Homo sapiens: one gene and its partners. The protein of the gene in region 4 purifies or fractionates together with the protein of the main gene of each other region. This does not show direct contact. Each region holds a gene or a part of one and is shown on either strand. Other genes may lie near its edges. The genes, in order: SLC25A46, TUBGCP3, ROBO1, CMKLR1, TVP23C, KIDINS220 and SACM1L.

Region 1 (4,135 bases), on a different chromosome or scaffold from region 4:
AAGCACTCTTTGCCCCTGTGCTCCACTAGCCCATTCTGTTGGTTTTTATCCTGCCTTCTGGTCTCTCCTGACTCCTTTTCAAGACCACCTTTCTTAACCCAGCCACCCCTTGGTTGGAGTTCCTAAGGTTCAGACTCTATTCTTCTACCATAGTGTATCCTTCTTCCCTAGCGACGCTCATATCTAGGGTTAGAGCTTCAAAATCTCCCAAATTAATTTACCTTCAGTTAAGAATTCTTTATATGCCAGCCCCATATCATGTGCCTACAGACAACTCCATCTGGATATGATAAAAGATCTGAAAATGCACTTGTACTAAAGTCCAACTTAAAATCTTTCTTTTCTACTTAAACTCTTTCAGTGTTCCCTACTCAGGAACTATTAATCAGAAAGGAAATCTATTGAATTTGAGGAAGATTTCATTGTGTTTAAAATAACGTGTGTTTAAAATAAGCAAATTCGGAGGGAACCGTTGGAGGAAAACTACAAGATGTTTACAGTGGTATAACCACAGATGTGTGATGAGTCAAAACTAAGTTGGAGTTGAACCAAATGGGTTTTGTGAGAGACTGAACCACACAGGTAGCCTTGGTTACAGGAACTCCTACCTCGCGTTAACAGTCTGAAAAAAGCCACATGTAAATTAAGTAAAGGGTACTGTGGGGGTAGAACGACACATGGTTTAACTCACTGCAACTGGGAGAGAGAACAGGGAAGGGTTTAGCAGTATCTACTGCTAAAGAGATCACACATGACGATCCTGGCTAATATATAATTTGTTAAAAAGTAATACTACTGAGAAATTATAAATTTGCTGACTTAATGAACACTAGAGATCTGCTGTTTTTCTCTTTGATTTGATCATAAACTGTATTTAAAAACCCCTAAATATTGGCAAATCTGTACTATCTCCCCTGTTCTACCTAGTAAATGTTACGCAATTAAAAAACCCCAGGCTAGGAGACCTCAGAGCTCATCCTCCTCATGTAGTAGCTTCTGTGAACTGCTGTTAATGTTTTGTGACCTTGTTTGCTCCTTCTTCCCATTAATAGGATACAGAAACAAACTCTGCCTTCTTCCCATTAATAGGAAAGGTCAAATCTGCCCAAAGAAGAATAAATAATTTTTTAAAAGATATTCACACTATACTTCAAAAAAACAGCTTCATTTGACAACTAGTTACACAAGCCCAAATACAAGAAGTCATTCTTCATACTGCCTTCTCTTTGATCTACCATTCCTAAAGCATCACCAAATTCCCTCAGTTTGACCTAAGTATATTTCAAAACTGTCCACTTACCTCTATCTCAAAAGATACCACCCTGATCTTAGCCACTATCTTTTCTTACCTTTATTATTGTAATAGAATACTAAGATGTCTCCTTTTATTCACTTTGGTCCTCATACAACCTTTTCATCTACAGTTACAATGACCCTTTGAAAACAAATCTGATGTCACTGACCTTACTGAACCTCTTCAATATTCTTAAAATGGCCTACAGGGCCACACATGTTCTGGCTCCCACCTGCTCTGTACCCTTACCCTTGGCCAGAGCTCCAGCCATGTGAGGCTTCTCTCAGTTACACCTGAATTCTCTAGGCTCCCCACTGCAACAGCATTTTTGTACAAACTGGTATGTACCTCCTAATTACCACTCTGATCTACCTTAAGTGTCATGTTACTAGGGACACTGTTTCTAGCCCTTTAATACTTTCATGGAACTATATTCTTTTGCTTCAGAAAACAAATTTCAATTTGCAATTATTCATTAATGGAATTATTGTTCTTAGTGAATGTACTTTTATTAGATTCTGAGCTTCCTGGCAACAGTTACCTTTTGTTTATTTTCCTCACTGTAAACCCGGTTTTTAGCACAGAACCTGGCACATAGTAAGTACTCAGGAAATGTTAGCCAAGTAAATGAATGAATTAATGAGTGGGCCTTATCACCAAAATTATCCAAGTAGAACAATGCAATAGAGGTTACTATTTTGTCTTCTTTGGAAAGATTCAAAATGATGAAAATATATTCCCACTCAGTTGACATGTCTGTCTACTGAGTAAGAAAGTTAGATGATAAAATTTTATAAAGTCCTATGCCTTCCCATTCCTATTTTTCTTTTTTCTTCCCTGTAGCCTGAAATTAATGTTATTCCTTCATCTCTGCTTTAGAGAGGCAACATTACTTGCATAAGGTCCCAGAAATAAAAAGTGGAATAGCCAGGACCTGAACCAATAGTGTTCTGGTTGCAAATATAGTCAACCCTCCATATCCATGGGTTCCACATACATGGATTCAGGCAACTACGGATTTACAATATTTATTTAAAAAAGGGATAGTTGCATCTGTACTGAATGTGTACAGAGTTTTTTTCTTTCTTGTCATTATTCCCTAAACAATATAGAATAACAACTATTTACATAGCATTTACATTGTATTTGGTATTACAAGGAATCAAGAAATGATTTAAAGTATACAGGAGGTTATGTACAGGTTGTATGCAAATACAACACCATTTTATAAAAGGGACTTAAGCATCTCTGGATTTTGGTATCCACTGGGGGTCCTGGAATCAATCCCCTACAGATATGAGGAACAACTGCATTGAATTTTTTTCACTCTACCAAATGGAATTTCCTGCATTTTGTTATTTTTTTACAGAATTGTTTGTTAAAGAATTTCAAGAATATTTGACTATAAGTACTAACTTGGGATCTTATCTAGTGATATAAAAGCAATAAAGTGAATAGTTAGCCAAACAACGAAATACAGATTTTTAAAGAATAAAACAAGAAACTCTGAGCTGCCCAAATGTTGCTGACCTTTCTAATCTTTGTTTTGTTTCAAACGTTTTAGCAAAGTTTATTTAAGGCACTTCAAGACTACGAGGTCCTTCAAAAGCAATCACATTGGAAAAAAGCTTACTATCAGTTTCTCTTGCTTTCATTTCCTTCCCTGTAAGGACTAAATCCCAACATTGGGCATATGCGTTACACTAGTAGCTATGCCTTCAACTATCTCACTTCTTTAACAATGCAAAAAATTCACCTTGCCAGAGAATAAATTTGGATTAACAAACCATTCCAAAGCCTTTAACATTATCGATAGGATGATATACAAAAATATAGTGCTGATATAGAAAATCAGAGTAATGCCAAATAGCACCTTAAAAATTTCTAATTTCCAATATTACCTATTAACATTCCTTTCATATACTCTTTGTAAGATTCCTTTGTTACCCATCATTGTGACTGTCCCAAATGTGTATCATTCCTCTCATGCTTTTCTACTACAACCCCAATGCTTATCATTTTTTCACCAAATAACCCTGTATCCTGCTTCACAGAGAAAAGAGAGACCCAAAAGCAAATTTCCCTAATTTCTCTACCCTCTCTCTCAAATGTATCTACACTTCTAATTCTCCCATTTTTGGTTTCTAGAACATGATTGTCCTACATCTTATGCTATTTCCAATTTGTCTGAGGCCCTCTCTAATTTCTCTCATTATCTCCCCCAACTACCCCCCTTCCCACCGCTCCCACACACACACGGCACACATGTATGCCTAGGATTCTGTCCTTGGTCCATTTTATTCATTTAATCTATGCTTTCTCCTTAGGTGATTTCATCTATCCTAAGCTTCAGCTGCTACTTTTATGCCACAATACCCAAAGCTCTCCCTGTGCTTCAATTTTCTATTTTTTTTTTTTTACTCTGATCCATGGTTCCAACCAAATATGAGACATGTCCCTCTCCCTCAATGTCTTGCAAGAATCTCAAACTTCATTTATTGAAAGATAAATTCTTTATCTTCTTCCCTACTCCAACTTTTTCTTCTTCTTGAATTCTCCATCTTGGTTAACATTTTCCAATCTAGAAATCTCAGTCACTACTGACAACTCATTCTCTCCTATCTCCAATTACCAAGCTAACATAATGACCATCGACTATACTTCAGAAATGTCTAGCCAGCTCATCCCTTTCTGTTCTGTTCCACAGTTCAGAACCTTCTCAGCCTCGCCTAGATTATTACAATAGATCTCCATAAATCTGTCTATACAACTCCATTTATTTTATACTGCCATTTGAATATATCTTGATCAGAACATCTATATATTAAAAAAAGAAACACA
Region 2 (4,135 bases), on a different chromosome or scaffold from region 4:
TGCTTGTTCTTCTGACCCCTATTAGTAGTAAGAACTTTTCCACACATCTCCAATCTTAAAAACTGATAGGAGGCCGGGTGCAGTGGCTCACGCCTGTAATCCTAGCACTTTGGGAGGCCAAGGCGGGCGGATCACGAGGCCAGGAGATCGAGACCATCCTGGCTAACATGGTGAGACCCCTGTCTCTACTAAAAATACCAAAAATTAGCCGGGCGTGTTGGCGGGTGCCTGTGGTCCCAGCTACTCAGGAGGCTGAGGCAGGAGAATGGCTTGAACACAGGAGGCGGGGCTTGCAGTGAGCCAAGATCACAACACTGCACTTCAGCCTGGGCGACAGGGTGAGACTCCATCTCAAAAAAAAAAAAAAAAAAAAAAAAAAATACTGAAAGGAGTCAGGTCAAAACAACAGGAATCAGAAGCTAGAAGAGGCACCCTGATACACCTGCATCCAGTCCTGTGGCAAGAGCCTTCAGGGATGAGCTGTGGGATGTAACTCCAGGATGCCTGGGGGCAGCTCTGCTGTTCAAGGAGCCCACAGCAGAAGCAGCCTGCAAGGGATAAACCTGTGTTCTTTCTCATTCAGTTTTATCCAGCAAAACTCCATCAAAAAATTTTTTTTAATTGTTTTTTAAACTTGTTTTCTTTAAGTAAATATGTAGGTTGCATACCTTTCTGTATATTTTTAAAATATATCAGCAGTCACCTATAGGTGTATTTTACTGCATTTATGGTTTGTGGACTAAGACAAATGTGAACATTTTCAAGTATGAAAATGAACATAAAACATACTAATTTTGTAGACACAAAAGGACACGTCAAAAGTGAGGTGTGCAAGAAGAAACGTCCTAGAGTCTGGAATGAGACAGACCAGGGGGTAAAAATCCAGGGCTCCCGCTGGAGGTACCGCCACGTGTCAGCCCCTGACGGTATGAACCTCTAGGCTCATCTACAAAGGGAGGAAGAATAAATGCGGTAACGTAGGGCAAGCGCCTGGCACAGTGTGGGCACAAAGGTGCTTACTAAACCATAGGTCAGTTTTCTTAGGTAATATTTACAGAGAAAACGACATGGAATCTGCTCAGGCACAGCATCACTCTTTACCAAAACTCCATCCCAGCCCCAGGGCAGGAGAGCAGACACATAAACACATCAAAGCTTTGAAAAACCTGCTGAAATATGCGGCCAGGTGCGGTGGCTCACGCCTGTAATCTCATCACTTTGGGAGGCCAAGGCGGGCAGATCATGAGGTCAGGAGATTAAGACCATCCTGGCTAACACAGTGAAACCCCGTCTCTATTAAAAATACAAAAAAATTAGCCGGGCGTGGTGGTGGGTGCCTGTGGTTCCGGCTACTCGGGAGGCTGAGGAAGGAGAATGGCGTGAACATGGGAGGCGGAGCTTGCAGTGAGCCGAGATCGCGCCACTGCACTCCAGCCTGGGTGACAGAGCGAGACGACTCCGTCTCAAAAAAAAAACAAAAACAAAACCTGCTGAAATAATCAAATCATTATCCAACGTGTAGAATCTAAGTATTTATATACAGGTGTATGTGAGTCAGCTTCTGAGAAGTCTACAACCAAAAGAGTGGAAGTGCAGGCAGAGCGCGGCAGCGCCACACACACTCAGAGGGAAAAGGCCTGTGGTTAGCAGAGGCTGTTTCCACCTTGGTTCATTAAATGCACATGTAAGTTTCACACTTACAAAACAGTATCTTCATTCATATATGATTTTGCTCCATTTGGTATGTCTAGAGCCAGGACACCTCCAAGGCTAATTGTGGGCACTGGTAATACTGACACAGGACATAAATTATGCAAGGCATAAATTAGGGCACACGGTCACCCCACTGAGAGCACACGCTGGCTCTTCAAATAAGATAAATAAACCATCACTCCTTCAGCAACTGGATGGCACCAAGCAATGACTCCAAACAGCAGGAAATGGAAGAACAGAGACAGCTTTGGAACAGAGTGACACGTCACACCCTAGTCCATACCTGCCATCTACTAGTCAGGGCAACTTGGTCAAATCAATCAAACTTGCTGAGGTTCAATTCTCACATCTGCAAAATGGGGACAATTAATGCTTGCCCTGATCATTTTAGAAGGCTGCTATGATAATCGATAAGGAGAAAGAAGATAAAAGAAGAGCCTCTAAAGTCCAGTACTATAAACAGCAGTCCCCGACCTTTTTGGCACCAGGGACTGGTTTTGTGGAAGACATTTTTTCCACGGACCAGGGTGGGATGGGGGGGCAGAGTGGTTTTGGGATAAAACTGTTCCCACCTCAGATAATCAGACATTAGATTCTCATACGAAGCATGCAACCTAGATCCCTTGAATGCACGGTTCACAACAGGGATCACACTCCTATGAAACTAATGCCATCACTGATCTGACAGGAGGCAGAGCTCAGGCGGTCATGCCTGCTCGCCCTCCACTCACCTCCTGCCGTGCGGCCCAGTTCCTAACAGGCCATGAACCAGTACCGGTCCACAGTCCAGGAACTGGGGACCCCTGCTATAAAACATAATATGATACTACTATAGTGATGATCAATCCATCTCCTGGAATAAAATATCTACATAATGGTTTAGTTATCCTGTATTGATTTTGTGTGTGTGTTTTGCTTCATGTCTATCAAGTTGACTGGGACCTATCAGTGACACTTGCATAAGATGATGATATAAACCCAGACATGATAAAACACTCCCTTCGGGAAAAGGGACAGGGACTCTAAAATTACAGCTGGCTCCTGAGGGGACGGCCCACCAGTCCTACCTGCCTCGAGAAAGAGCCAGCTCACTCCTATCTGCCCTTGCAATGAGGGAGAGTGGTGGCTGGTCATCGAGCAATTCACTAGACTGGCAAACAGAACAGAAAACAGTACTAGACTGGGAAGCAGCATCTTTATACGCATTCTCTCCCCACCTTCACAATCCTAGAGGTAATCACTACCCCACTCTATGCAGGAAGAAACTTGTGGCCAACAGAAGATAACCTGGGCAAGATGACGTGACCATTACAGGAGAAGCCCAAACCAGAACCCTGGGCTGCCTCGCTTCAAAGCTCAAAGTGTGATGCCTACTCAGCAGCCACGCTGCCACAGCACACTCCTCCCCACCAGCCACGCTCCTCCCCACCAGCCACGCTCTTCCCCATCAGCCATGCTCCTACTCAGCAGCCACACTGCCACAGCACACTCCTCCCCACCAGCCACGCTCCTCCCCACCAGCCACGCTCTTCCCCATCAGCCATGCTCCTACTCAGCAGCCACGCTGCCACAGCACACTCCTCCCCACCAGCCATGCTCCTACTCACCAGCCACACTGCCACACTACTCGCCTACTCACCAGCCACACATTCTTACCCACCACCCACACTCCTCCTCACTAGCCACATTCCCAACCACCGGCCATGCTCCTACTCCCAGCCACGTTCTTACCCACCAGCCATGCTCCTCCCCACCAGCCACACTGCCACACCACATGCCTAATCACCAGCCATGTTCTTACCCACTAGCCACACTGCCACACCAAGTGCCTACTCACCAGCCACATTCTTACCCACCGGCCACGTTCCTGCCCACCAGCCACACTACAGCACCACACTCCTCCCCACCAGCCATGCTCTTCTCCATCAGTCACGCTCCTACTCACCAGCCACCCTCCTACCCACCAGCTACGCTGCCATAAGTCCTGTGCTACGCTGAGCTTATAGTACACAGTTGTTCTGTGATTCAATAATTTTTGGAGATTTCATTGGCAGTAATTACTGCCCAATAATCAACCTATGGACAAGACCACATGCTGCTTAGCCACAAAGAAGGGCTGGACAGTGGAGATGCCACGGCTCCTATTAGCTGCCCCCTGTCAGGCTCCAACAGGAGGAGAAGCAGCAGCAGCTCCCTCCCAACCATGCACTGTGCCATCGGCAGTGCCCACCCAGGGCTGTCCAGACAGCCATAGCCAGGATTCCCATCTCCAGCTTCGGCAGTGTTCCCAAATCCTGCCTCACCGTGCTGCCTGGGGAATCACGCAGCTGGGAGTGTCCCCTGTTGGCAGGCCCCGTCCCAGCAGGGCCCCTCCTCAACCTTCTGGAGGAGGCAGCAGCAGCTGGGCAGGGCCCCCTTCGAG
Region 3 (4,135 bases), on a different chromosome or scaffold from region 4:
ATATATTTTTACCATACCTACTAAATATATAATAATAATATATTTAAAAATATAATATATGTATATACTTATAGTATTTATAGAACACTATATTGCAATGAATATGAATAAAGTAACTGTACCCGAAGCAACTTGAATTAATCATAAAAAAATATTTCCAAGAATGCAAACAATATTTGACAATTTAGGCTAATATTTTATTTACTTAAGACAATACTATATATGAATTAAATATGTAATATATACAGTAAACTCAAGAGAAAATGCATAGAAATAATAACAGCAAATTTACCACACTGGTTACCTCTTAGAAGGGAGATTCAATCTGGAAGAGTACCCAGAAAACTTCAATATTACATTTAATCTTTTATTACTTAACCTGGGTGGTAATTCAAGGGAACTTGTTTCACTCATTTTTGTGTCTGCTAATCAAACTTGTCATAATAATAAAAAGTCAGAGTCATTAAAAGCTCCAAGTACTCTGCACAGCAGCACCTCAACTCTAAATGCCATGTTCACATGTGATTACTGAAATTCTGCTCTTGGCAAATCTGCCTTTCTGATGCAGGACTCTTGTACTTCAGTAAGAGTGACTCATGTGATCTAATTTACTATACTCTAAGCAAATCTTTCTCTGAAGCACGGTAATCTGGGAAGACACAAAATAAGATCTAAAAAGCTTTGCAAATGGCTCCTCCCCCAAATGCTAAATTAAGTGCCATATTGATCTGACTGAATTGGAGAGCAATTGTTGTGATAAACTCCCTGTTCCTAGTTACACCTGGAATAGATTCTGTTAATATGTGGACTCAAGTGCCCCACCCCCATATATTCTATTGTAGTAATTCTGATGGGGGATCCTGGGACTGGTGTTTTAAGGGCTACTTTTTTCACTTTTAAGATTTATTTGGTTCAATGGACAAAGTTTGAGACATACTGCTTCACAGAATTTAGAGTCTGTCTTAGTATCTTTAGGGTGCTACAACAAAGTGCTATGGAATAGGTGCCTTGTAAACAATAGAAATGCTTTTCTCATAGTTTTAGAGGCTGGAAAGTCCAATATCAAGGCGCTGGAAGATTTGGTGTCTGGGGAGGACCCACTTTCTGCTTCATAGACAGCCATCTTCTTATGTTTAGTCGGGGGGGAAGGGGCAAGAGAGCTTACTCAGACCTCTTTTATAAGGGCACTAATTCCATTCCTGAGGGCTCTGCTTTCATGGTCTAGTCATCTCCCAAAGGCCCCACTTCCTAATTTTAATTTCAGCATATGAATTTGGAGAAGACACAGCATTCAGAACATAGCGCAGTCTCATAGTAGAAACGAATAAATGATTACAATGGAATTTCAGAGGCATTATTAAATGATCAGAAAGGGAGGAATACTTAAACCTATTTTCTTAACATGAAGGTCTTCACAGAAGAAGTGACACTTGTTTTGTGTTTTCAAACATCGCTAAAAAAATAAGAAAGTGAGAACCATTTGGGGCAGAATTCTGGACAAACACACACACACACACACACACAAAAGCCGAGAGGAATGAAACATCCTGAGTGTTTAAGAAAATGCAAGTAAATTTTCATAGTAATTGATAATTCTGAAGACTGAAAAGAAGAATTCATGCTTCATATCACAGAGTACCTTCAATGACTAAGGAGTTTAGAAATTGTCATTTTTGCCCTGACAGATAGCTCGCCAAACTTGTTGCACATGACTTCAAATGGCTGATCCCAGGAAGTGGAAGTAAGAATTGGAGGGCAGGCCCATGAGGAGAAGAGGTGAAGTTCAAGAGAAAAATCATAATTTTTTTTTTCTTTTCACTACATGATCATAGGGAATGAGGCAGAGGGACATAGCAAAGAGGAATGTGTCTTGATGCATGATGTGCTATTTACCACTTGGAAATCTAAAGAGATAAGCAAGTGTGGCAGGGAGGATGATACCTGTGGCTTTGAATGCTTTCCTTTAGGACAGTTTCCTTTAAAATGCTTGTGATGCATTTCTAGGTGGAGATGAAATTAGATCTTTGGAAATATAGGTATGACAATCAGGAGCAATGCATGGACAAGAAATATAAAATTTGAATGTCATTACTGAAACTCCGGAAATGTATCACAACATCTGGGTGACTATCGAGTGCGAAAAAATAATAAGGGCAAAATGCAGAAATATAATGAAGAAATAGAAATTTATAGTTGATGGATAATGTATGTAAAAGTATATAAGGTAAAGGCTCAAAAAATGTTAGCTTACTCCTCTTAATCCCTGAATAAAGACCAAATTAGACAGCAGATGTTATTGGAAATTACTTGGAATTTCAGAGGTAAGGAACAGCAATAGGGTTGGAATAATAAGAAAAATTTTATGGTGGAGAAGGAACATGAACCACCCTAGACAAATGGATAGGGTTTGGCCAAATGAAGAAGATAATTTTGCAGATTAGAGAAGACACGTGTGCAGAAATGGAAAGGCAGAAAAGAACAACTGGCTGAAACTGACGTACTGGATCCTTAGCAGGCATCCTGGCTACATATGCACAAATTTCAAAGAAAATGGAAAGCCCCTCAGTTTTCCCCAAGTGCTCTGACCCCCAGAGATGATACAGGCAGGGTGGCAGATAGGGGTGGGGTATATTTTCTGAAAAAGTTATTTACTGTTTATGAGATCCTTGGAAAGTAACTGTAAAAGTTTGCTCTTGGAGAAATGCAGATAATGCTTTGGACATGAAAAAGATATCAAGGAGATTAAAAAATTATGAGTACTAAAATAAAATTCAAGGAATAATCAAACTCCTTGTTTAAATATGGGGGAAAATAGGTAGGTCCAGTTAACTGAAGAGAATGGCTCCCTTAAAAGCAGCAGTATGACATACTAGAAAAGCATGTACTCTGTCATGAGAAAGAACTTGTTTTTAATCCTGGCTCTGCCCCTTTTTGGCTGAATAGTCATGTCTATTTTCCTTAAACTCTCTGAGCTTCATTCTCTTCATGTGTTGTAGACATCTAATAAAGCCTACTTTGAAAGGGTTATGTGGGGATTAAGTGAAATATCTATTGCAGGTACGGTGACTAACACTGTTTCTACAGTTTTATCCTATGTAGTTTTGAATTAGTCAGTTAGCCTTCTAGGACCTCAATTTCCTATAGAATTAGGAGAATTGGCACTAATATATTTTAGGTACAAATATGAATACATTAACAGTAACATTGCTCACTTCAACAGCAAGTTTAGAGAGATAAATGATTATGTGACCAGGTCATAATCTAGCCTATTGTATGCTATCATGTTTTTGTCTGTGGTCTCAGAAAGAGGAAAATCAGTTGAGTTTAGGTGGCAAGAAGGAGCTCATTCTCCAGCAGATTGGTGGAAGCTCACCTCAAGATACATTTCAAATGGTGCATTGCACCTGCTCATTCATCAAGCTGCCAGGGGCTTACTTTACTGCCTTGCTTTTTTTCATTTAAAATTCACATCTTTGTGGTGTCTAGAGTTTCTCAGCTTTGTAATGAAAGTAATACATTAAATCTTGCTTAAATAAAAGTAGTTCCTAATGTATTAAGTATAGATGAAGGCCAAAAAGTGAGATTTTATAGCTAAGCACAACACTACTTTCCAAATAGTGCACACAAGTGTATAGCTTCCTTTTCATCTCTGGTCAATGTTATTTTGTATTTGAATTGATTCTACTATGTTATAAGATAAAAGAAAATTATACAGAACAATGCAGTTCTCTTTGGGGAGATATTAGGGTATTTGTTCTTTATTTTGTGCAGTATAGGGTAAGAGAAAGTTGGCATTAAACCTTTGGGACTCCCTAGGCAGCTGTTGAGTCTCTCCCCTCCTCCCATGCTCAGCTCAGTGCTATATCACTGGAAATCACTAACCTTCATAGAGTAGAGCCCAGAAGATGGTAACACTGGTTCAAGGACAGGCTAAGGGAAGCGAAGGGAAGTAAAAGGAAGTAAATAGGAAAATACAACAAACATGTGATTAACAGCTGTTTTCTGAAGCAAGGCTCCACCAGGGATCTGCAGCTGTGTCATTGTGCTTCAATTCTGCAGCTCCTACAGGGCTAAATTGGAAGAGGCATGGAGCAGGAAGATATGTGCGAAAAGGCTAAAGGAAGTCCAAAAACCG
Region 4 (4,135 bases):
CACATGCTCACAAAAACAATAGGTGGCCGGGCTCACCGCAAAAACATGCGGTGGCTCATGCCTGCAATCCTAGCACTTTGGGAGGCCAAGGCAGGTGAATCACTTGAGTCCAGGAGTTCAAGACCAGCTTGGGCAATGTGGTGAGACCCTGTGTGATGGTTAATACTGAGTGTCAACTTGATTGGATTAAAATATAATAAGTATTAATCCTGCATGTGTCTGTGTGGGTGTTGCCAAAAGAGATTAACATTTGAGTCAGTGGGCTGGGGAAGGCAGATCCACCCTTACTCCGGTGGGCACAATCTAATTAGCTTCCAGAGACTATAAAGCAGGCAGAAAAACCTGAAAAGGAGAGACCGGCCTAGCCTCCCAGCCTACATCTTTCTACCATGCTGGATGCTTCTTGCCCTCGAACATCGGATTCCAAGTTCTCCAGTTTTGGGACTCAGACTGATTCTCCTTGCAGATGGCCTATTGTGTGACCTTGTGATCATGTAAATTAATACTTAATAAGCTCCCCCTTTTTATATGTAGAGAGTGAACCGTAAGAGAACCCTCTAAGAGAACCCTGACTAATACATCCTGTCTCTACAAAAAATACAAAAACTAGCCAGACATGGTAATGCATGCCTATAGTCCCACCTACTCAGGAGGTGGGAGGATTACTTAAGCCCCAGAGGTCGAGGCTGCAAATGAGCTGTGATCATGTCACTACACTCCAGCCTGGGTGACAGAATGAGATTTTGTCTCAAAAAATAAAAAATAAATCAATAGGTGTCAAACCCAGGATTAGAACTCACATCTGCCAGACCACAGGGCCTGCCCTCTTCTCACTACACCACACCCTCTCTCCATTGACTTCCTGTTTCTCTGACCCCTGATTTCCAGGAGGAAAAACCAAGTGTGCTCACTGTTGTTTTTTGTACCCATCTCCCCACCCACCCACCTCCTTGCACAAGAGCTGCCCTCAGCAGGAACCCAGGGCTGGAATCTGAGGACCCATGTCCTATACCCCAAGAAAGCAGAACCGATTCTGACATTCTGCCTGGATAGCAGCTGACCTCCCTGCTGAGTCAGCCGCTGGTACTTCCAACATTGCCAGAGACTGTCTATGGTGAAGACAGTGAGGCCCAGGGCACTCTCCACCAGCAGAGCCCAAGACCTCTCCTTGGGGCCAGACATGGAGGCAAGAGACTAGCCCAAATGACATTTTCCAGTCTGGGAACCCAAGATCACAAGGCACCAGACACCCAGATGTGCAAAGGCCAATTTCAAAGCTCACTGTCCCAAAAATAAAAATAGAAATGCCTTCACTGAACTGACCACGTGCTGTACTCAGTGCTTGATGGATATGGACTCATTTAATCTCACCATAACCCTGACAGGCAGGTACTCATAGCATGCCCACCTTATGAATGAGGAAGCTGAGGGGCTCAGGAGGTTAAAGTTCAGAGCTGGGATCTCAACTCTGGAGCACTTGGATCTGGGATCTATCATCACCACAGTGTGCTACCAGCCAACGTCACCCAGACGTCAACATTTCTTTCTCTGATAGCACCACGTAGAATTACTGCCTCTTGATTCCATCTGACAGTGCAAGGATTTCTACTTTTTCTCATTCATACCTGTGTCCATTGCTGCAAAAATCTAGAGGTTCTAAAAAGAAATAACTGGTTTCGTGCTATCGCCTGAAACCAGCATGTCCTGAGTCCGGCGGCAGCTCAAAGTGGCTGCCAATAACAGGGGCTCCTCACTGCATCTCAGTCCTGGCCTACGGCCACCTCCTCAGCAGGGGCTATGGAAAAAGTGCTGGGCTGGAAGCCAGGTGTTTCAAGTCCTAATCTGGCCAAATGATCTTGGGAATGTCACGTAACCAATCAGGGCCTCACTTTCCTCATCTCTCAAATGGGTTCCACAAGGATAGGAATCCTGTCTTTCCATCGTTCTTGCCCTGTGGAGAGCCAGACGTGTAGTAGATGCTAATAAATGTTTGTTGAGTGAATTAATAAAAGTATATGTTACAAGTTTGTCTCTCCTCCCCTGAGGGCCTCAAAGACAGGAAGCAGGTCTGATTCATCTCATTTTCTCACAGTGCTGCAGCTGTTACTCCCACATGCATTTATTCACACAGGAAAGTGCTCCCAGGCACCCACTATGTGGCCAGCCCAGTTGAAGCCTCAGTGTCTTCCAGGACCACACAACACCCTCATGCACTGTCCCTTCTCTTTTACACAGCCAGTGGCTGTAATACTTGGTCACACTGTACTTCTTCACCCCAGGACCTAGGACAACCACCCAGCTGCCTTACAGTCAGCAGCCTTGGCCCATTCTGGGGAGTTTGAGCATGATTCCTGAGCTTTCACTTCCCTCATGCCCAGCCCTGGGGGAGCCCAGCCCAAGGAAAATCCCGACTCTAACCACACCATGTACACGTACATGAACACCAACATTCAAATGTGCAGTGGGGCCCTAGGACAGGAATAAGATGTTTTTCGTTCAAATCCCATTCTTTTGCTATGAGCTGTGTGACCTTAGGCAAGTCCCTTTAGCTCTCTGAGCCTCATTTTATTCACCTATAAAATGGGGATGATAGTCCTGAGGCCTTTCCATGTAGGCTTGTAGGGAGATTCAAGTAGATAATGGATATAAATACCTTTGGCTTAATAACCCGCAGCATGTTCTATCAAACCATTATTCTTATTTCCTTTTTCCAGGGGGAAAAGAGAATGGCAGTTGCCTATGTTTCAGAAAAATCCATGTTTAGGGGCCTGGAGTCTGGAAATTTACTTAGTATATTTGATGGGAATTACCTTGAGGATAGGTGATGTTGTGAGTCCAACATCACCATGTTAACTAAGATTGACTAATGGAAATGTAGACTTAGAATCAAAGAATGGAAGCAACCCAAGAGGTCACCACATTTGTGACAGAGACAGGTAGCTGTCCACAAAAATTCATTCTCCCTGTCCACAATACACGACTGTGGCTGGGAAAGAGCTGCTCTTTGCCAAGAACCTCATATCCTTGTAACTCCATGTCCTGGCCTCCTTTGCAACTAGATTGGCCACATGATAGTTCTCATGTGAGTGGAAGTCATGTCTGCTGCTTCCAGGCCAAAGCAGATAAGCAAATATGCCACCTCCATACTTTCTTTTGTCTTGTGCACCTGGCTGCAGACAATGAGGATATCTGAGGAGAGAGTGGGACCACCAGATGAGTCACTGAAGTACCATGAGGAAGAGGACCACCCTCCATTCAGAAATACTTGCCTTATAATAAAGCTCTGCTTTGCTTCAGCCCTTATGCCTTTGGGGACCTATTTGTTACTGCAGCTACTACCCTAGCTGATATACCATTCGACCTCCTTATTTACAGATGAAATTATTGTGGCCAAAGAGTAAGAGTGCCTTGCCAAGGTCACACAGTAAGCTCAACAAATGTCTAGAACTTTGGTCTCTTAACTCCTTGGAGTAGAGGAGTTGCAGTTTCCTGCCTGCCCCATGGAGCTACAAAGATTCTTAGAGGCCCTTCAGCAACAAGAGTGAGATTTAGTGGCAGCCTGGAGTCTTCCACCTCTGTTTCAACAAGAATAACACCACCTTTATCTGTTTTCAAATTACACTTCCCCATAAGACTTTCATTTGTGGAAAGGATTCTGCAACTGAAAATAATTTCAAAGCCTCCATGCTGGGGGATTGCTAACACGATCTGACTTTCTGTGGTACTATAAGACAAAGTTTCGCTTCTTCTCTGCCAAACCTTCTGGCCTCAACTGCTGACACGGAACATGTGGATTCACAGAAGTACATGAATATTTGCTTAGAAGGGAAAAAAGAAACCTTATTGTGCAGCAAAGAACCCAAGACCCCAGTGTGAACAAAGGGCAAAAAGGAAAGACTTTTAAGCACTCTAGGTTGGTAGTTCTCAAGTTTTGGGGTGCATCTGAATGACCTGGGGTGCTGGTTCAACATGCAGACACTGAAGCCTCATCCACAGAGATTCTGATTTCCAAACTGAAGCTTTAAGAAACACTCACAATTGGCCGGGCGCAGTGGCTCACGCCTGTAATCCCAGCACTTTTGGAGGCCGAGGTGGGTGGATCACAAGGTCAGGAGATTGAGACCATCCTGGCTAA
Region 5 (4,135 bases), on a different chromosome or scaffold from region 4:
TGTCAGCACTAAAGGAGATGGCCTTCTAGAATTTAATGCATTTTTCTGTCTAGTTCAGACCAGAAACAAGCAATATACGAACAGAATCCTTTGAGGGAAGACACTGGGTCTGAGTTCATACAGTGTGCTAAGCTGCCTGTCAGGGATTGCTGATAAAAGATCTCTGTGTTGCCTTTGTTAGTGTCTCCATAAATCCCTCTATGCTCAGCAGATAACTGCTTTTAACATCTTGTTCTGTCTTTGCTCCTGTGGTCGTCTTTCATTTCTGGGCAGGAAAAAGGAGGAGGAGTGCAGCTGGATAGAATATCTGATTGGAGCACTCTATTCCTAAGCTTCTGCCTTCAGGAGCCCTGGGGATCCTGGTCTGTTTTGGGTTAGCCTGCTACACTATAGTGAATATTCACTTTCCTTGTGGAAATAAGTTTTGGAAGCAGAGGACCAAATTCTTGGCGACAGTACACCAAGGGTATTGACAAGTTATTTTAAGAAAGTGGCACTGTGTTCAATGAGCCTGTATTCCTTTATATTATGGAATCTACCTTGGAAACAACTTACCACCCTTGTAAATTCCTGGGTATTGCTAAGACATTTTGATTATTGTCCAGAATCCCTTGATTCCGTTTTTTTTTTCCCCTCTGGACCCTAATTTGACCTTTTAGTCTCCAGAATGATTATAACTGTGATTTCCTTGATCATTGGTCAGAAAGGTATCATTTAGAGCTTCCTTATGAATAAATAGTACAAGTGCAAGAAGAATTGAATAGAAGCCTATCAGAGACCACTCTTTACTGTCATGAGTTGTGGTAAACCATCCATCCTGCCCTGAAAATGCAAAATTCTTGAGTTAATATAGATCAGTTCCTAAAATTACGAGAGTGATAGTCATGTATTTTTGGGTTCTAACTTAGGAGTTGGGCTATGTGTATTAATATTTGAACTTGTGGGTAATATGTTTTTTATTAAATATGTTGAACTTTTTATTGATAAATTTCACAACATGATAATTGAATTTATGTTCTTTTATAGGAGTCCTCTCAAGAGAATAAAACTGTGTCAGAGGCTGAATCAAGAATCTTTTGGTTGGGACTTATTGCCTGTTCAGTACTGTGGGTGATATTTGCCTTTAGTGCACTCTTCTCCTTCACAGTAAAGTGGCTGGTGAGTATCAGTGTAGAACTTTCAAATAATCCATTAAGATGTCTGATGGTAATCATAGGAAGCAACAACTGCAACTGAGTCCTTATCATTAGGGACCTATCTTGAATAGGCAGCTTCATCATGTAATTCCCAAGTTTTGCTTCCCAACTTTACCTTTCTCTATAATACTGGAGAAGAGATCCTAAAAAACCCCTTCCCACCAGTTTTCTAGGATATTAGTGGTCTTTTCTGGAAATAATGGTTGGTAATCTGTTTTGGTTACCTATTGCTGCCTAACAAATCACCCCAAAACATAGTGGCTTAGAGCAACAACAGCCATTATCTCACAGTTTCTATGGGTCAGGATCTTGGGAAGGGCTCTGCTGGGAGATTCTGGCTTGGGGTCTTGAGTAGTTGTAGTCAGACAGTAGTTGGAATGATGGGGGTTGTGAGCCATCTCCTCTTCATGAGGTCCCATGGCCTCTCCACATGTTTTTCCATGTGCCTTGGTTTGGGCTTCCTCATGGCATGGTGGCCTCATGGTGGTGGGACTGCTTACGTGGCAGCCCAGTACTTCACTTGTGGGGTGTTCTAGCTCACAAGCTTTTACAATCTAGCCTAAGATGTCATAGCATTGCTTCTGCTGCCCACTCACATTCAAGGAAATGGGAATTAGGCTCTACTCTTGATAAGGAATAAGAAGGTGCTAGAAGACTTTGTGGAAGAGGAGATATTGTTGCTGCTGTCTTTGGAAAATATAGTTTGTCACTTGACCCAATTTGTGAGTCTTACTCTTTTTTATATCTCATATTGTTTTTTCTTATTCTATCTTATATCTGATATGAATAAATATTGTGTGAATTTTCACACAATATTTATTGATATCAGATATATTTTGGCCTTAATTATGTTTTTCCTCCTAATTTGTAGTATTTTCTTAGTCCTATTTTGTGATATAGATTCTTTTTTTCTTTGTGTGTGCTCATACATTCATACTTTCCTTCTTTGGATTTGGAAGCTTATTGGAAGCTTATTGTCTTTTTTCAGTTCTTCTGGTAGTTACCTTTAATTACTTTATATGTTATATCATTACCCTCTTTCATGAATTAGGAAATGTATTCAGTATTTATGGAGTTCCTGCTCTGGAAAATGGGAAACTTTACGCTAATATGGTTTCTTTAACTTCTCCCTCCTCCTACCTCTAGAGTTTTGCTTATTATAGTCTTATTTTAGTCCTTCTAGTGGTTTTCTTTGTAACATTAATTAATGTACTTAAACCTGTTTATTGACTTAATAGACTCTGTTTAGAAAGGGAAGAAAATAAACACTCATATTCCTTCCTATGAGTTTCCTCCTTTCTCTCTTGTTTGTTCCAATGTTATTTTTGTGTTACCAAGTTTTATAATAGTTATCTTTTGAAAACATATTTCTTACTGGTTGTTCAGTCTTTGATCTGTTTTTTAAAAAAGTCAATTCATTGCCTATCACCAGTCTTATTGCAGCTTCTCCTTTTACTTATTGGTTGGCTACATTTTCTTTTGACTCATGTTTAAACATATGAGCCTATTGACTATTCTTAAATGATGACCTGGCTGGATTAATATTCTTGGGTCACAGTTTGTTTCTTTTTGGAGGATGCTATTCCATCATTTTCTTTCACTGAATATCTTGGAGAAGTCTGAGGCCAGGCTTACTTAACCTTTGTAATCTCTCCTCATAAGGTGTTTTTTTTTTTAGTTCATGTAACCCAGATGTATTTGTATTTATCTTTCCATATCAAGTTTTCTGGAGTCTGTGCCTTTCTGACAGGCAGACTAAAGTTTTGCTTGGAATCAGGAAAATTTTTTCTGTTAAATCTTTGCATTTATTTATGTTCTATGGTTTGACCTTTTATTTTGAAGTACCAGTTACGTTTATGTTGGATCATTTTTATTTGTTTTCATCTACTATTTTCTTGTTGCTTTAATTATTCATCTTTTCCTTATTTATTCAGCAATTTTAAGAGTTCACTCTTATGTCAGAGCTGTCTGGGGACACAGGGGGACAAGTTAGGGGACAGTAAACAAGTTGACTGCTCCAGTAGAGCTTATGTTCTAGTGGAAGGTAGATAAACAGTAAAAAATACAGTAGGGGATGTTAGTTAATGATACAAAGTAATGGGGTAGAGAGTGCAGAGGAGAGAACAGTAACTATTTTAAGTGCTCAGCTAAGGCTTCTCTCTGTATTTCCTTAGCTTTGTCAGCTCCATTTTCATCTCCTGTTATCTCACCCTCATGCTTTTTGAGTTCTTTTCTTTAGGTTTTTCTGTAGGGTGAAATAGTCCCAGGAATGCTTTTATTTTGGTGGGTTTTTTTTCTTTTCGAGTAGATTCTTCACCTATCTTCTGTATACTATGCTTCTTTTTTCTTTTTTCGCTATAGTTTTGCATAAATGCACTTCCCTTTTTCCTTATCCATTTTGCTTATCCTTACAGTGACAGTCCTGTCCAGCCCTTCTCTTTCTGCTGGTTTAGTGCGGGTGAATCCCCCTTGACCACCTTCTCCTGATGTCTGAGGCACGTGGCTGCTGCTCTGAGCTGGAGTTGCAGTGCTGGGTTTGGTAGCCTGAAGGCACAGGTGTGATGTGCGATGTGGAGAACTTACCAGGCTCTTGCTGTCTTGGCTGGGCTGCCTGGTTTTGCGTTCTCTTCCTTAGTGGGGCTCTTGTCTGCTGGTTGGCTGTGCACTCTCTTCTGGTTCTTCCCTTCTGCTTTGGATTGTTTGTAAGACCTTAGAGCTTTAGCATCCATCCAAGAGAGTGAGCCCAGTCTTTTTCTAGCAGTGTTTCTACTTCCTTAAAACAAAACAGGGAGAGGTTATGTGAAAGCCAGTTTGATCCTGTGTTAACCTACTTATGCCTAGTGTTCCATTATTGGAACGCTAAGCATGTAGGAGTTATTTATATCCTACTGCTCAAGGTAATCACCAAGGTCTGATTTTTCACTCATGCAAAAATTCAC
Region 6 (4,135 bases), on a different chromosome or scaffold from region 4:
AATACAATATCCTTCTTAACATTAACCTCATGCAAGGACACCTCCAGTGGCAGAAGTGAAGATACGACTTCCCACGGCTTCCATAGCTCAGGTGTCAAAAAGCTGCCGTGATGTCTCTTAGGTTCACACTCACCTCCATCTTAACTTATCCAAACACCAAACTCCACATCCATCCCCAAACCCTCCTCATCACCACTCCAAAATGCTCCCCTGCTCCTCCTGCTGTCACCATGCCAGTAAACGGCAGCTCCAGGTCCATTCTTCCAAGGCCAAAAGCATTGAAATTGTTCATGACTTACCTCTTCCTCTTACACCCTACACTCAATCTATTAGCAAATGCTTTTGGCTCTACCTGTAAAATACATTTCACATCTGACTACTACTCACCACTTCATCACTGCCACCCTGGACGAGCCACCGTGACTCACCTGCGTCACTATCATCGCTTCCTAACTGGCCTCCCTGCCTCCACTTTACCTGGAAGAGTGGATTTTAAATGGTCTCACTGCAAATAAATAATTAAGTATGGGAGGTGATGAATATGTTAATTAGCCTGATTTGATCATTCCACAATGGATACATGTATCAAAACATCACATTGTACCCCTAAATATATATAATTTGTCAATTAAAATTACATTACTTTTTTTAAAACTTTAACATATATCAGAATCACCTGAAGAGCTTTTAAAGCAGATTCCTGGGCCCCACCGTCAGAGATTCTGACTCAGCAGGTCTGAGTGGGGCCCCTGACTCTGCATCTTTATCCAGCTCCCTGTGACACTGACAACACTGAGGAAGAACCACAATGTGAGCAGTACTAAGTCAGAGCATGGCCTCTTTTATTCAAAGCCCTCTAAGGGCTTCTCGGGGTGCTCAAAGTAAAATCAAATGTTTTTACCTTGGCCAAGATAACTCTTCAGTGGCAAGCCTCTCACCTGTGTGACACCTGTGACTGTAGCTCCTACCACCCCCTCTCACCCTCCTGGCTGCATGGCCACACTGAGCACCGTCCCACCTCGCCAGGCCTCTGTGCTACTTTTCTGTCTGCCTAAAATTCTCTTCCACAGGACATGCACACGGCTTACCCCCTGACCCCGTCAGGTCACCTGGTTACAAAGTCTCACCGGATGTGGGATGTCAGGGTACCGACCCCACACAGGCTTCACTGTCACCCTGCACTCTCAACCCTTTGTCCTGCTTTCACTGCTCTCCACACCACTTGCCACCATCCAAAAAATGACATATTGTTCACTTATTGTCTGTCTACCATAACTATAAGTTCTAAAAGAGTAGAAATTTTATTATATTCAACTGGACATCCAAATGCAAATAAATAAACCTCAATCCATACTTTGTACCACATACAGGTGCTAACTCAAAATTGACCTAAATATAATGTCTGAAAGTACAAAACTTCTAGAAGAAAATATAGATGACTTCAGTGACCTTAGATTAAGAAAGATTTGATATAACACTAAAAGCATGGTGCATAAAAAAAGAAAACTGATAAACCAGAGTTCGTCAAAATTGAAAACTTTGGCTGTTATGAAAATGAAATTATTTGGGACTGGTGAATCCTCTTTGCCTTCCTTTTCCTCCACCCTTGAACAGGACTGTCTATAACTGATATCCCATGCCCATTCCCTAACTCTAAGTTGGAGCAGATAACTTGATTCTTGCGTTTCCCAGGTGGAAAGGAATCATGCCTCTGGATGGACTACACCCAGACCCTCTCATACCTGATTTAGATGATGAGATTTAAATGAGACTGTGGACTTTGGGTTGATGCTGAAATGAACTGAGACTTTTGGGGAGGCCTTGCGATGGAGTGAATATGTTTTGACACAGGAAGGAAATCTATCTCTGGGGGCCAGAGGGCAGAAACTATAGCACTATATGATTCTACTTATATAGCATTCTGGAAAAGGAAAACTGCAGGGGCAGAAAACAGATCGGGGCTGCCAGGGTCTAAGGCAGGGGAATGAGATGGCTACAAAAGAGTACAAGAGAATTTGGCGAGTTAATGGCTGTTCTATATCTTGACTGTTGTGGCAGTTACACAATCATTCGTTTGTCAAAATTCAGAACTGTCCATTAAAAAGGGTGAATGTTATTACATGTAAAGTATAAATCAGTATACCTTACTTTTAGGGAGTATATATTCAGAACAACTTGAATTTATACTCTTGGGGTGAAAAACTATTATTTTAAAAAATGATGTTATTTGATCCCATAGTTGCACTTCTAGGAATTATTCTAAAAACATGAGAAACATGAACAAAATTTTAAGATTTTAAGTAAAACAATTTTATCCATAAGAACAAAAATCTTAGAAATGGATATTATATAAATTATAAAAATTCACAAAGTAGGATAATATACAGTCATCAAAATGTCTCAAAAAATGTGTTACAGAAAAATGCTCATGATAGAAGAAGTGAGGTAAAAGATTAAGAGCTATATATACAGCATCTCAGCTATTTTAAATGTATACATTTTTAAATACTGGAAATAAAAAAAGAACAAATGGTGATGGGCATTAGTGTAATTTTTATTTTCTTTAAAACCTTTATCTCCTACATGTTCTGGAATGTGATGCTTCTATCATTAGAAAGCAGTGAGGGTTTGTATTAGCAGTCATCACCAACACCTACCTTCATTTATTCCCACTCCTTCTAGGATCAAGCCTAAGGCCTCAGTGAGGTTTGCAGGATCTGGCTCTCCCTCTATACCAGCCCCAGCTCACCCCACAGCCCAGCCAAGCAGAAGAACTCAAATTCACCACACTCCCCCAGTGCTGCTCCACACTCCCGCCTATGCTCAATGTGCTCCTTCCATGTAGAACACCATCCTCATCTCTACTCTACCAAGGCACCCATCTCCCTCTGAGTCACACAGCTACCATTTTTCATCCAGTTTACCCCCTAAAGTGTGAGATCACCCAACCCCACACTCAGTGCCTTAGTTTAGACCTTCACCATCTATACTAATCAAGACCCCTAAGGTTGCAAGAGACTAATTTAAACTAGCTTAAGCAAAACAGAAAAATGTATTTGAAGGATAATGGTTTATTTCCCATAACCACACTACAGGAAGAGTGGGTGCCACTGGACCTCAAATGCCAGGAGGATTCTCTTTCTCTACTGGCTTAATCTACTTTCCTTCTAGACCAACTACTTCTACACAAAGGGAAATATGGCTTCCCACAGCCATCCAGCCTCAAATCAGATCGTTTATTTATTTTTTGAGACAGGGTCTCACTCTGTCACTCAGACTGGAGTGCAGTAGCACGATCATGGCTCACTGCAGCCTTGACCTCTAGGGCTCAAGCGATCCTCCCACCTCAGCCTCCTGAGTAGTTGGGACTACAGGTGCACACCACCATGCCCAGCTAATTTTTCTATTTTTTGTAGAAATGAAGTTTCACCATGTTGCCCAGGCTGGTCTCAAACTCCTGGGCTCAAGTGATGCGCCTGCCTCTGCCTCCCAAAGTGTTGGGATTACAGGTGTGAGCCACCGCACCTGGCCTAAATCAGATAGTCTCTAACACCAGAGAAAGCAGGCTATTCTTTGTTCCCAGATCCAACAGTCCCAGAAAAGGGCTCTGACTGCCCAGGCTGGATCTGTTGCACACCCAGAACCAAGCAACTAGAGACACAAAGTTGGGAGGGGGTTACAAGGTCACACCATATTGGCACTGTTTCCAGAAAAGAGTAAACAGTTGTGATCTAGGCATCAATCCTAAAAACTTCTACTACACCATCTCTCACCCAGATCAATGTGACAGGCTAGCAACTTTTGCCTCCTCTCTCCAGGCCTGCCACCTGCAATCCATTTGCCACACTGAAGCAAGAGTGACCTACAATACATCTCTCCTAAAACCAAGGTTGGGAGGACAGATGACAGCTTTACTACTTACAAGTTATTCAAGGAACTTACGCCTTCTAAGGCTTTTAAAGCCATTGTAAAGATGCAAATACACAATTCCTACGGAAAGCTTTGCTCTCCACTGAGCAGAGTGAAAACTCAGTAAGTTCAATTCTTGATTATGATGAGGGCATGCAGATTCTTCACAATCTGGCCCCATCTTACCATTCCAGCCTTATCTTTCTCCCCTCCTCAGCCCCATCCC
Region 7 (4,135 bases), on a different chromosome or scaffold from region 4:
CAGGCAATACCTGTGCTTCAACCTGTTTTTGTATTGTAAGGTAAGAATGCTTTTTACATTTTTAAATGGTTATAAACACAAAAACAAAGAATGTACAGCCATCCATAAAGACAAAAATATTTACTACCTGGCTCTTTACAGAAAAATTTTGCTAACTATAATAATAATAAGATGGCTCTTTCTTTCCCCCTACTCAACATTTCAGCATTTAGTTAAAACTATGTCACGACTGTCTACAGGGCTGAGCACTGAGGGGAATACAGAGATGAACAGGTAACTGAGCCTCCCTATCAAAAAGGTGACAGAATTAGTGGTGGTGGTGGAGTGAGTCCTTAATTCAGCAAACATTTACTGAGGGCTCACTATATCCTGGACAAAGGAGATAAAACAATGAGTAAGACACAGTCTTTACCTTCAAAAAGTTGCTGATCCAGTGAAAAAAACAAACAAGTATGCAAATCATTACCATCCAAAAAGAAATACACACTGGGTATGTCAGGTACACCAAAGAGGTATACCACCTCTGAAAAATAACTCCCTATGTATTAATGAGGTTAAAAGAGGAAAGTGCTGGGAGAGAGGACCAGGAGTGCTGTGGAAATCCAGACAGAAGGTGAAGACTTCTGTGTGGGAGAGACACTCTGTGAGAGGGGAGCATATGAATGGTGCCCTGAGGATGGTGGAATTCAGACAGGCAGAGAGAGGTTGGCTCAACGAATTCAGGATAGAGGATGAAGGCTGGAAGGTGCCTCTTCTTTCAGAGTGACTAGGATTGCATCTCCAACGTCCAATACACCAAGTCTCAGACTCAAACCTCCAAATTACAGGACATTACTCAAAGGAGAATAAAGAATACATTCTTCTCACTTTAATCTTAAATGCTTTATTAACTCAGTAACATAGCAAAATATTAAGAGAAAAAAGAAAACCAGTAAAGACCTTGTCTCCTCAGGTTCTCAGGCAATTTTACTCTCAACCTTTAAAATGTAATGATAAGTAATATCTTAATCCATTAACATTTATTTGAGTTGGTTAAACTATACATCCATAAATGGAATACTTTGCAGCCATTAGCAATTAAGAACATGGGAAAACATACTGCTCAGTGAAAAAAAGCAGATAATGAAAATACGTATCTCACTTTTGAAAAAAAATCACAGACACTTATAAAGATTAAAACATCAAAATGTTAAGAGTGGTTAGCTTCTCTCTCAAAGGTATGATGATAAATAATATTTTCTCCTTTTCTGCCTACGTGTGCTTTCTATAATTACTATGTATTACTTTGGTAATGTGAAAGGAAAATAAAATCTCAGGACTCCAAATTTACTATGCCAAAGGAAAAAGTTAAACTTGGGAACTGAGTCTCACAAAACTACCCTCCTTTTGTTCCTAAGTAGACAGCTGCAAAGATAGTGGGCCACATATCCTCACAGATGGCCACCCTCACAAACTGTCACAAGCAAATTCCTTGTGGGCCCCAAAATCTTTACCCTAAAAGACAGTCCTGTTGAATCTCCCTCACCCTGACAATGTAAATTAACAGTTTATTTTCACAGGTATGGGACAAAGACAAGACTAGAAAATCATCCCTCCGCCCACCCCAAAACAAATGCAGATCTGACTTCTTTATCTACTCTATGTTTACTTTGTCTTACATAAAATGCAGATTTACTGAGCAGGAGATGAATGCATAATTGACTGTTCCTCTACCCCGTCCTTTCACATGTAACATGGATTCAGTGAGTGCTAATCAAAGCCTCACAAGAATGTGACCACTTATCTTACTACCTACCCTCCCCTTTTGTTTCCATTCCTCCTTCCTCTCCTGTACACTCTTTCCCCATTTAATACTGAAGTCCTTAAAACCCTCTTTGGAAAAAGCACAAGATACTGATCCTACTGTATCTTGTGTCTCTTTTTCCTGGGCAGGTCCTCAACCTTGGCAAATTAAGCCTCTAAACTGACTGAGACCTGTCTCAGACACTCATTGGTTTACAGTAATAAGAAAAACATGTTTTTAAAATCTGAGGTTAAAAAAAACGACAACCATCAAACTACTAGGTATGTTATTTTTCTTCCTGTCACATCTAATGACAATCTAATGTCACATCCACTTTACCCATTAAATTTAATAGGGAAACATCAAGTGTTCGGTGAACTCAAAAACTTAAGATGTTGTAAAAGAAAGGTCAACATTCTAACTAAGAAACAAATGTGTGGAGCAGACTTACCAGCCATAAGCAAACAGATAATGCACATTGAAAAGGCAACAACCATGATAATAGGCAACTGGAAAAGACAATAGAAAGAGATCATCATTTAAGAATGCTAATCAATGGCAGCAAAATCAGTTGTGCATGCATTGCTTGGGAAAAGAATAAAACTCATCTGTCAGCTAATACACAGCTAATATCTTTTGTCAACAAAACATTATTATTTATGGGTTCAATCACAACTGCCCTAGACTTTAGATGGGGGATGTGGTAAGATCGGAAGAAGCATGCTTTTGCTCCAAGCCAAAGGGTGCTAAATGGAAGGAGGATGCCCAGATGAGGACCTAGAACACTAGGCCTCCCTTCCATTCCAGAGCACTTGACACACTGGAAAGAAAATCCAGAGCGGCTCTTGCAGGGTCTGGTGAACAGAGGAGTCAAAAAGGAGAGAAGCATCAAAAATAAACTTTGCCTTCCATGTAACACGTTTGTCTCTGGCAATTCCCTCAATGTAAGAGAATTGAAGTTTTCCTGAAATGAGAAAGCTTCCACATTCCCTTTGCTTATGTTACTTCACATGAAAAGGATGTGTGAGAGTCTGAGGAAAAGAAAACAAATGCTCCACAGTTACTGTACTCCTCAGCCTGACCTCTTTGGAAAACTTAAGTATTTATATTTCATGTAATGAAATATAAAACCACATATAACGTTTTAAATTGAGACTGAAACCATCTATACCTTCAGACACAATGCTTTTAAAAACTTGAAAAATACAAAATGGTTTCTTACAGCCAGGAATTTCCAGTCCCTTGGAACACTTAAAGGACTATGAGATTCTAATTCATCCACTGAATAGTTTCCAAGAAATAAGTCTATGGAATCCTAGAACAGAAAGGAAGAAATTCGTAAACTCAGTGTGAGATAACATTAGTGATGAACAATGCAAAGATACAACCACGTAATGCCAGGAAAGCATCAAATACAAACTTACTTGTCTAAATCCATCGGAAAAGTTGTTCTTATAATATCGTATCATTGAGTTCCAGCCATCCATTATAAGTCCCAAATGAGTTCTCTTTCCAGTTCTGGTTAAAGAGGTTAAATTTTAAGTTACAGGTTTGTACACTGAATTCTCACACTGTTTTATGGCCAATAAGCATAAGGTATAGAAATAAGTGAGTGACAGATTTTAAAAACTATCCCTGAAAATACAGATACTTCACAAAAGAAATCACTTGTAGGTCCAAGAAATACCTATTTTCTTTCTAAAATATTACCAAAGGAGGCACAAAGAAACACACTAATTCCAGTTGCAAAGACAAGAAATATGAAGAGAAATACATAGCCCAGGTTAAGTGGTAGGACACAGCAAAGCAAACAGACTAGAAATCTTATTCTGCTCCCAGGGAACCCACATAGCAGAAAAAGAGCCACTGCATGCATAATACATTCAAAATGTTCTCATTAATGTCCTCATTACTCAGTGCAGTCTTTGAAAGCAGCATCAGCATCACCTGGGTGCTTTTTAGAGCACATCTCAAGACTGGTGCTTCAGGTACACGGTAAGGTCTGAGGAGCACTGTGGAGCGGTGGCTCTCAACCCTCCCCAAGCATCAGAATCTCCCAGGGTGGCTAAGAACACACCAGTACCCGGGCCTCACTTCCCAGAAATCCTGACTCCACAGGTCTCAAGTGAGGCCCAGATGCTGGAGTCTTGCTGTTGTTGCTGCTGCTGTCTGAAAGCTGCCCAGGTGATTTTTAAAAGCACCAGGACTGTGAACTACTGATGTGGAATGCTATTTTAAAAGCATGGCTTGCCTGGTAAAGTCAGTCTTCAAGGCACCAGTTCCCGCATATTGCTTGGCACAAGCATTTGCGTTGTCAGCCCAGGCTGTAGAAAAAAGTAAAAACAGCTGATA

What was found.
Region 1: the proteins of CMKLR1 (region 4) and SLC25A46 purify together in Homo sapiens (affinity purification with mass spectrometry; one large-scale study listed by BioGRID and IntAct). This does not show direct contact.
Region 2: the proteins of CMKLR1 (region 4) and TUBGCP3 purify together in Homo sapiens (affinity purification with mass spectrometry; one large-scale study listed by BioGRID and IntAct). This does not show direct contact.
Region 3: the proteins of CMKLR1 (region 4) and ROBO1 purify together in Homo sapiens (co-immunoprecipitation; 2 studies listed by BioGRID and IntAct, with this or other methods). This does not show direct contact.
Region 5: the proteins of CMKLR1 (region 4) and TVP23C purify together in Homo sapiens (affinity purification with mass spectrometry, with the first as the bait; one large-scale study listed by BioGRID). This does not show direct contact.
Region 6: the proteins of CMKLR1 (region 4) and KIDINS220 purify together in Homo sapiens (affinity purification with mass spectrometry; one large-scale study listed by BioGRID and IntAct). This does not show direct contact.
Region 7: the proteins of CMKLR1 (region 4) and SACM1L purify together in Homo sapiens (co-immunoprecipitation; 2 studies listed by BioGRID and IntAct, with this or other methods). This does not show direct contact.

The regions. Positions count from the first base shown.
Region 1 is NC_000005.10:110,748,909-110,753,043, reverse strand, and holds part of SLC25A46 (mitochondrial outer membrane protein SLC25A46), read right to left. Parts: intron 1-4,135. UniProt on the Homo sapiens protein: Transmembrane protein of the mitochondrial outer membrane that controls mitochondrial organization.
Region 2 is NC_000013.11:112,549,637-112,553,771, forward strand, and holds part of TUBGCP3 (gamma-tubulin complex component 3), read right to left. Parts: intron 1-4,135. UniProt on the Homo sapiens protein: Component of the gamma-tubulin ring complex (gTuRC) which mediates microtubule nucleation.
Region 3 is NC_000003.12:79,761,109-79,765,243, forward strand, and holds part of ROBO1 (roundabout homolog 1 isoform a precursor), read right to left. Parts: intron 1-4,135. UniProt on the Homo sapiens protein: Receptor for SLIT1 and SLIT2 that mediates cellular responses to molecular guidance cues in cellular migration, including axonal navigation at the ventral midline of the neural tube and projection of axons to different regions during neuronal development.
Region 4 is NC_000012.12:108,332,225-108,336,359, forward strand, and holds part of CMKLR1 (chemerin-like receptor 1), read right to left. Parts: intron 1-4,135. UniProt on the Homo sapiens protein: Receptor for the chemoattractant adipokine chemerin/RARRES2 and for the omega-3 fatty acid derived molecule resolvin E1.
Region 5 is NC_000017.11:15,542,808-15,546,942, reverse strand, and holds part of TVP23C (Golgi apparatus membrane protein TVP23 homolog C), read left to right. Parts: intron 1-1,026; coding exon 1,027-1,158; intron 1,159-4,135. Other genes in the region: TVP23C-CDRT4 (uncharacterized protein LOC100533496), read left to right, coding at 1,027-1,158.
Region 6 is NC_000002.12:8,827,188-8,831,322, forward strand, and holds part of KIDINS220 (kinase D-interacting substrate of 220 kDa), read right to left. Parts: intron 1-4,135. UniProt on the Homo sapiens protein: Promotes a prolonged MAP-kinase signaling by neurotrophins through activation of a Rap1-dependent mechanism. Provides a docking site for the CRKL-C3G complex, resulting in Rap1-dependent sustained ERK activation.
Region 7 is NC_000003.12:45,737,744-45,741,878, reverse strand, and holds part of SACM1L (phosphatidylinositol-3-phosphatase SAC1), read right to left. Parts: intron 4,108-4,135; coding exon 4,035-4,107; intron 3,302-4,034; coding exon 3,208-3,301; intron 3,099-3,207; coding exon 3,006-3,098; intron 2,293-3,005; coding exon 2,235-2,292; intron 1-2,234.